Linked DNA regions of Homo sapiens: region 1 is linked to region 2. Evidence: fine-mapped expression QTL. A gene starts in region 2. The other region holds a variant in brackets. All regions are shown on one strand. Distances are from middle to middle.

Region 1 (4,394 bases), 100 kb after region 2:
TGCTAAATAGTGATGATGCTGCCCTCTAATCTCTTTAGTATTTGATGATCCCATCCAACTTTGACAGTTTAAAATGTCTCTTCTTTTTAATATTCCTACAGAACCTATAGACTAAGACACCTCATCTAGCCCTTGATTAGTTACTGTATTATATTACACAATACATAAGCTTGATCTGCCCTGACCAGAATGTAAGTCCCTTGTTTTGTACATATGAAACGTAAGCTTAACCAGCTCACAAGATCCTTCAGGGCCAGAAACCATGTACAGCTTCCACATATTTTTATTTATTGATTGACTTTTTGCCTTTTAAATTTGATTTTTAAAATTTAAAATTCAGAATGGCGTGGCAGAGATAAGAGAAGGAGCATCTGAATGCTGAGAAGAGTTTGGCTGGAGATGGTTGGAGAGGAGATCGGCTGCTGGACGGTCAAACTCCGGAAGATGATCATCTTCCCACTGCATCCCACCTCTACCCTCAATAAAACCTGCACAATCACTGTCCTCAATTCCCTGTGCAACTTGGTTCTTCCTGGACGCTGGACAAGGACCTAGGTACTGAGAGGACACTGAGCTGGTTAACACTTAAGCCCTCTGCAGATGGCAAAACTAAAAGATCACTGTAACACATGCCTACTTGGGCTTTGGGAGTCACAGGCACCCACCCCTAGACGCTACCATGGGGCCGGAGCCCCACAGCACTCACCCCAGCTCCTGCACCTGCCCATCTGTGTGCTTCCCCTCCTGTAAGTGGTTTGAGCATGCAGAGGGTGAACAAACAAGCCACACCCCTGTCACACATCCTGCAAGGTTGAGGGCGGGGGTGTCATGGAATTCTCCTGTTTTGTGAAGACTGAATCTTGAGAATTATTACTATTCTGTTATTTGACAGATATGTCACAGAGTACAAAAGGCTGGGAAATCATGCTTCAAGGAGTCATCACTCAATTTGAGAACAGTTACTATAGAGCTCTGGGAAGAAAAGTAGATTAATTGCTTTGCTTACTTCAAACATTCCTTTTTTGTTCTTTAAACTTGAGTTTCTTTACTTTATATCCACCTTAATTCCTTTCCCTACCCGAAGAAGGTGTGGCTTTTCAGATAAAGCCATGCCAATCAAAGGTTTTTAAATGTTGTGGGGTACTGGGATACTGGACAGGGCTAAGTTGCTAAACCGGGAAGGCCAGAAAAGGTGAGTGAAGTGGGTTAGACTAAGGAAGGGGAAGTTGCTTTCCTTAGTCACACCTGCAAATCACTCAGAATGTTGAACCATAATTGACTCTGCTAAAAGGGAAGGCCTAGTTGGTACTGTGCTGTCCTCTGCAGGTAGTCACCTGCCCAGGCAGGACAGCCTTAGCAGTCAGTCATTTCCTGGATGCCAAAGCGGGCAGAGGACACATCTCTGGGTCCCAGGAATAGCAAAGCATTTTACATAATGACTTACTTGGTCTCTGTTTCCCTCTCTCAAAAAAGTAAGATTCAATTTTTCCTTTCCAGGAAAGTTAGTAAAAGGAGAAAAGGAAAAGGAAAGTTAGTACTTACAAAATATTGGCATTTGGTTCTAATGTAGGCATTTATTTTAATGGAAACAGCTACCAAGTCCATGTGCCAAGGGGAACTAACTCACCACACTGGAGGGGAGGTGGCAGAAGCGCTCCTCCATCCTGCTCACTCTGGAACCCTACTGTGTCCTAAACCTGGCTGTGGGCTGGGGTGAGAACAGTTTTGGATATGTGCTGCAGAGCCTAACAGCTTATACATCTATAATGCCAAGGACTATATTTACTAACCTCTAAGGTCCATAAAATCAAATTCGAAGCTCAGTGTAATGTTTTCTGTAGGCATTAAACAAATATTTGTTGAATTGAACTATCTAACAGATGAAGTTATATATTAGAATTAAATGATAGTATGTAAGGATACTTTTGCCTTACCTGTCATGTCTCAATACAGGTGTGGGCAACACGCTTGTCAGAAGCCATCCGAATTCAGCCAGAGTGTGCAGCAGAGGGCCATAATCTGTTTTGATTTCACATCCCTGCATGAATAAGTATAAGAGCTCATAGTCTAATGGCAAAGACAACCAACTACACAATTACAACAAAGGGTGATGCGTGTTAGGATGAGGGGAGTTCACTTTCATCCGCTGCAGCCTTCCTGGGCTTCATGTTCTGCTCTGCTTCCTTCTGATAATTGAACCAAGTTAGAAACACTAGTAATGGAGAGAGGTTTCCATCCCGTTGTCTGAAGTTTGGGCCTTCCTTTGGTCTTGTTAGGGCAGTGGTTCTCGAAATTTAATACATGGGGTTGGGGAGCTGGGAATCTGCATTTTATTTTATTTTATTTTATTTTATTTTATTTTATTTTAAAGAGAGGGTCTCATTCCTACATCCAGGCTAGGGTGCAGTGGCACAGTCATAACTCACTTTAACCTCAATCTCCTGGGCTCAAACTATTCTCCTGCCTCTGC[C/T]GCCTGAGTAACTGGGACTACAGGTGCATGACACTATGCCTGGTTAATTTTAAAATTTTTTGTAGAGATGGGGTCTCACTATGTTGCCCAGGCTGGTCTTGAACTCCCGGGCTCAAGTTATCCTCCCATTTCACCTTCCTAAAGTGCTGGGGTTACAGACGTGAGCCACTGTGTCAGGCAGAGGCTGCATTTTAACACGAGTTCCTTAGCGGATTTGGATCCAAGAAGTTTCTAGAACACATTTCAGAAACATGGGTCTAGGGACCAGGAAGTGAGGACAAGAGTGGAGAGTGACAATAGTGGTATTGAAGATGAGAGGCGCTTGGGTGTGGGGAGTCTTTTCACTGCTTTTTTCTTAATTTGGAATTGAGTTTTGCTAAGAGCTCTACCTCTTTCCTCAAATCCTTTTTCCCCACTCAATGGGTTTTCTAGTTTCTTTGAAAATGGGCTATGTCTCTTTAACCTGTGTAAGGTCAGAAAGGTAAAAGTATCCCTGAAACAGCCTGTCAGGGAGGGCCTCAAACACAAAACAGAATATACCTGAATTCAGTGTGTACACCTCAAAGACAGTCCATTCAGTGACATCTGAATTCAGGGTGCACAACATCAGCAGCAATGTCATCTCTGTTTGTGAAGGACAATGCTGTGTGTACATATTTGGCCTGGCGAGAGAGAGAACATCTTTTGGATATTTTTGCCTTTGAAAGTCATTCATAAGGTTAAAAAAAACCTCAGTCACATTGGTTGATTGGAGATAAAACACTAGTTGAGTGACCAAATTTTTTTCTTTCAATCAGTTGTCACAGAATGCTGTAAAGAGAAGCTCAGTGCCAGGCGATGTTTTTTGGCTTAAAATTTTTGGGAACTTACTGCTGCTTATGCATAGTTAATTATTTCTCTATCTTGCAAAAACATTTAACACTGGATAAAGCAAATTACCTTTTCACAAATCCGAAAGAAGTTTGTTCATGCATTTGTAATGAGATTCTAAACACTAAACAAATATGTGTTTAAGGATACTGCATGTGCCAGGCACTGAAGATCTTTAACATGTAAAATAAAATATATATAGCCTGGGCAACATGGCGAGACCCTGTCTCTACAAAAAATACAAAAAAATTAGATGAGTATGGTGGTGCAGGCCTGTAGTCCCAGCTACCTGGGAGGCTGAGGTTGGAGAATCACCTGAGCCAGGGGAAGTTGAGGCTGCAGTGAGCTGTGATGGTGCCACTGCACTCCAGCCTGGGTAACAGAGTAAGGCCCTGACTCAAAAAAACAAAAACAAAAACAAACAAACAAACAAATGAAAAACCCAAACCAAACATATATATATATTATATATTATATTTATATATGTAAAGCTAAATTGTCAGAAAACTGCAGCTCACCTCAATAACAGTCCATTGTTCTACTACGATGGCATCATTTCCTTTCCTACTAGAACCTGGAACTCCAGAACCTTCTTCTTCATAGATAAAAAATCCTTCCAAAGATTTAGGCAAATGTTCCCCTGTGAGGAAGAGGGTACAATTAAGAAGGGTTGTAAATACTAAGTGGCTCATAAAACCATCTAAATCCTTAAATAACTCATATAGGAAACTGAAGGAAAAACATTTCAATTAAAAAACATTTGTTGCCCCCTCCCCCTCCCCCTCTCCCTCTCCCTCTCCCTCTCCCCACGGTCTCCCTCTCCCTCTCTTTCCACGGTCTCCCTCTGATGCCCAGCCGAAGCTGGACGGTACTGCTGCCATCTCGGCTCACTGCAACCTCCCTGCCTGATTCTCCTGCCTCAGCTTGCCGAGTGCCTGCGATTGCAGGCGCGCGCCGCCACGCCTGACTGGTTTTCGTATTTTTTTGGTGGAGACGGGGATTCGCTGTGTTGGCCGGGCTGGTCTCCAGCTCCTAACCGCGAGTGATCCGCCAG
Region 2 (4,394 bases):
TCTGTGACCGGTTGCAGTCAAAACTTTGTTTCACGCACAAAATTATTTGAAGTTTTATAGGCGCCTGCCGCCACGCCTGGCTAATTTTTGTATTTTTAGTAGTGATGGGATTTCACCATGTTGGCCAGGCTGGTCTGGAACTCCTGACCTCAAGTGATCTGCCCCCCTCAGCCTCCCAAAGTGCTGGGATTACAGGTGTGAGCCACCGCTCCCGGCCTATTTAAAGTATTGTATAAAAGTAACTTCAGGCTATGTGTGTAAGGTGTATAGGAAACAAATGCATTTCACATTTAAACTTAGGTTCCATCCCCAAGAAATCTCATTATGTATATGCAAATATTCTAAAATCCAAAATAATCAGAAATCTGAAAGTGTTTTGGTCCCAAACTTTAAGATGAGGGGTACTTAACCTGTATAAGAATTTGTGATTTGCACGTCTCTGTTGCTGGAGTCAAGGCAATTTGTAGTGAAGGACTGAGCCTTATCATACTTGTACATTAGTGCCTACCATATAGTGGGGCTTAATGAGTATCTGTTGAACGAATAATCTTTTCATATGTAGACGCTGGTTCTGGGAGGGCAAAATTAAGTCCCTATTCTTGAAGAGTTACCAGTCAATACATCTTCCAGAGAGAACCAACTTCCTGTTGTTAAACCCTTCAATGCCTAGTTCTAAGTCACTGACAATTACTCAGCTAGAGACCCACTCAACCTCTCCTCTCCTCTCAAATTCCATTTCTGGAAGCTGTTACATGGCCCTTCCCTCAGCATTCTCAATACACCTTCTATCTAGGGACACTTGATGTTTTCTTCTTTTGGAAATCATGCTACTGTATGCGTTTTTTACTTTTTGAACTGTCTTCCCATCTGCTATCCCAAGGCCTCCCTCACCCCAGATAAAAGATTCAAGGTTTCTAAGCAGGAAAAAAAGTTTGCGAAAATGCTGTGGTTTCTTAAGAGAGAACACTTAAAATTTGCAACAAAGGAAATGTGGAATCCTGTAAGATGTAAAACCCTCACCACCTGTCAAGGACTACTAATTTCCTCCTCCTGCTTCTGACTTGAAAAACACGAGCTAAATCTGTCTGCCTAACGCACAAAACCAGATGTCCACTCTTCATCTCACATAATTGACATCTGCGTCTTTTATCTACGTAAACAAACTTGTCATTGAAAAAGTCCTTGGCTTTGAAGTCGCCGGATGGCGTAAATAACACTGACACTCAAATCCCCCGTCTGATTTCAGATTGGGTCGATTTCACGCAGGTTCTATAGAATTTGCCAAGACTGCTGGCCTGTTTTCTACCCTGATTCCTTAGGTGGCTTCTGGGACAGAATTACGGTTCTCTAAGTATTTGCTTGCAGGTGGGTTTACTGAAACGGTCGCCACTATACGAAGTTCGTTCTTCCCGTGTAACTAACGAGAGCCCATACCAACGTGCAACGCAGCCGTGCACACTGCCGCAGCGGTCGCTGCGATCACGACCTTTCAAACCGCCCCGCAGCCCTCGCAAAGAGGCTCGTGGCGCCCGCCTTCCGGTGCCTCAGTCCCTGCCAGTAGCCACCCGACGCCGTCCGGCTGTTCCTCGTTCGCCCTCTCCCTCCGCCTAGCCCGCTTCTACCCGGACGGCTCCCGGCGCAGGCTGCAGCTGTTCCGTCAGCTGCCGCTCCTCCTCCCAGACGCAGAGCGCCGCTCTGCCCCGCCCCCCGCGCAGGCTGCCGTCCCTACATCCGGGTACCGACTCCAGCCGCCTAGACGCTGGCACTATGGTCATGGCGGAGGGGACGGCAGTGCTGAGGCGGAACAGGCCGGGCACCAAGGCGCAGGTACCATGTCTGCACTTTTCTTGTCGGGCAACTAGGTGCCGAGCAGTGCTGCGCCCGGAAGCTGGCCGCCACTGCGGGGAGGTTGGGCCGAGGCGGCAGGCGGGCGGGCTGGGGCACTGGTGCCCGGCCTGCTCTTCCGGAGCTGCAGCCCCTCAATTTGGCTGAGGCGGTGGCGGCCGCCGTGAGGCCTGCGGAGCTCCGACCCAGGGGTAGGCGTGAGGGGCGGGTGGGGTCTGCTGGTGGTACCTGCCTGCCGAAGCCCTGGGCTGCGAGCCTGTCAGCAGCAACGGCTTCTTCTCGCCTTGCCCCTGAGCCCCAGCTGACTAGCATTGGAGGGGCGCGACCAGCCTGGTGGAGACCCCCGGGGTTTCCTGAAGGTCGGGGCCGCTGAGGTGGGAGGGGGTGTAAACACAGCCTACCTCGACCCGGCGTCCAGTTCCTACCTGGCCTGGGAAGTACCTACCCGTTTCCTGCCATCCAGCTTGTCTAGCCGGATCCGGGTGCCGATATTCTCCTCCTTGTTTCCCTTTGACCACCTCTCCCTGCCGCTTTCCCTGGAGCTGTTCTCTGGTCCAGCAAGTTTTCATCACTAAGTTGTGACTTGTTAGATGTCATTCCTTGCTAATATGCGTGAAGCATAGTCAGAGAATGAACTGATTATAATTTTGTCAGCTTTTTTGTAGGGCATTATGTGTGGTAAATTGGTGCTTGATTAGGCATTGTTTCTTAGGGTTTGGAAAAGATGGGATGCCTCACATTAAAAATAAATAAATAAAATTGGCATCCAGACTTGAACTGATTAATTGCTAGCCGAAATGGCTTGCTATAGACTAGATGCTCTGAAATCGGAAGAGATGTGTTTATAAAATGTTAAAAAGTGATGCAAATGAAAATTGAAACAAAACAATCGTGGAGCTATGATTGTATGTCTGAGAATAGATTTTAATTTCTTATACAGAATTATGGAAAGAACACCTTTCGAAGGGGGCATACAGGTATTGATTACCTCCCCAGATTCATGTTACAGATAAGGAAACTGAAGCCCAAGAGAATTAAGTGGATTTGCCCAAGGATACATAGTCTCCTGATTCTTAATTCACTGGTGACCTGTTCTCTTTAACAAGCTGCTTCTAGTGCTGAATTTCAGAGAAAATTTTAAAGTCTTATTTTGGAGTCACATTAAGCTGTCAGTTATTCCTACTGACAGTTTTGTTTTCATACTACTGGAAATTTATCCGTTACATATGCTTGCTTTTTACCGTTTCCACACTTTTCTTCCTCATGCTCTTTTCTCAGATACCTTTACATCTTATTCTGTGGAAACATTGTTTCTGATTACATTTTTATGTTCAGAAGTAGACTTTTCTGTTCATATTCTGAGAGTCATCTCATTTATTCATAAGTTCTTAATTTTGAAAGGTTAGAAAATAAAATATTTAATATCGTAACATACTTGCTATGTTGCTGTAAGTCACATAGAAGAAAACTTATTGTCTTTTTTTTTCACATTGTCATGGATCAAGGTTGTTAGATAAAATATAACAGAAAAAGGATAAAAAATGAAAAAGACTGCTTACGCCGTAGTTTGTCCTATCTTGTTTATCACATGAATTTCGTTTAGTGAAATGGATCTGTTCTAAAATGATATATTTAGAACCGTATCTCCTTCCCTATTGGGTCAAAAGAAAAAAAATTAAAAACTATAATAGAGGGCTGGGTGCGGTGGCTCACGCCTGTAATCCCAGCACTTTGGGAGGTGGAGGCAGGCGGATCATCTGAGTTCAGGAGTTCAAGACCAGCCTGGCCAACACGGTGAAACCCCGTCTCTACTAAAAATACAAAAAATTAGCTGGGCGTGGTGGCGGGCGCCTGTAATCCCAGCCACTCGGTAGGCTGAGGCAGGAGAATCGCTTGAACCCGGGAGGCGGAGGTTGCAGTGAGCCGGAATCGCGCCATTGCACTCCAGCCTGGGTAACAAGAGCAAAACTCGGTCTCAAACAAACAAACAAAAAACTATAGGAGAGTAGGTGGAGTATCTTCCTACATTAAAAAAAAAGTTGGTTAGACTGGAATATAGGCACATAGTTGGTTTTCTTTTTTCTTTTTCTTTCTTTCTTTCTTTTTTTTGTTTTTTTCTTGAGACAGAGTTTCTCTCTTGTTGCCCCCAAGCTGGAGTGCAATGGTGCGATCTCGGCTCACTGCAACCTCCACCTCCCGAGTTCAAGCGATTCTTCTGCCTCAGCCTCCCGAGTAGCTGGGATTACAGGCGCGTGCCACCACGCCCAGCTAATTTTTTGCAGAAACTGGGTTTCACCATGTTAACCAGGCTGGTCTCGAACTCCTGACCTCAGGTGATCTGCCCGCCTGGGCCTCCCAAAATGGTGGGATTACAGGCGTGAGCCATTGCACCTGGAGGTTTTTTTTTTTTGTGTGTGAGGCAGAGTCTCGTTCTGTCGCCCAGGCTAGAGTGCAGTGGCACGATCGCAGCTCACTGCAGTCGCTGCCTCCCAAGTTCAAGTGATTCTCCTGCCTCAGCCTCCTGAGTAGCTGGGATTGCAGGTGCCTGC

Evidence for each region. PIP is the estimated chance that this variant, and not a neighbour inherited with it, causes the effect. A credible set is the group of variants that fine-mapping cannot tell apart.
Region 1: its variant is the best candidate, but not a certain one, in a credible set for the expression of MOB4 in whole blood (INTERVAL, PIP 0.54).

What each region holds. Positions count from the first base shown.
Region 1 is chr2:197,613,942-197,618,335 of GRCh38, forward strand. It overlaps RFTN2 (raftlin family member 2), which reads right to left. Exons shown (of 9, transcript NM_144629.3): 6 at 3,859-3,980; 7 at 1,935-2,038. Among named protein-coding and RNA genes, the nearest start is that of RFTN2, 59 kb to the right of the region's middle. The variant C/T (reference allele first, on the strand shown) is at 2,471.
Region 2 is chr2:197,514,320-197,518,713 of GRCh38, forward strand. MOB4 (MOB family member 4, phocein) reads left to right here and starts at 1,747. Exons shown (of 8, transcript NM_015387.5): 1 at 1,747-1,827. The coding sequence starts at 1,768. All of the region lies in intron 2 of HSPE1-MOB4 (HSPE1-MOB4 readthrough), which reads left to right. RefSeq lists a silencer at 1,586-1,805.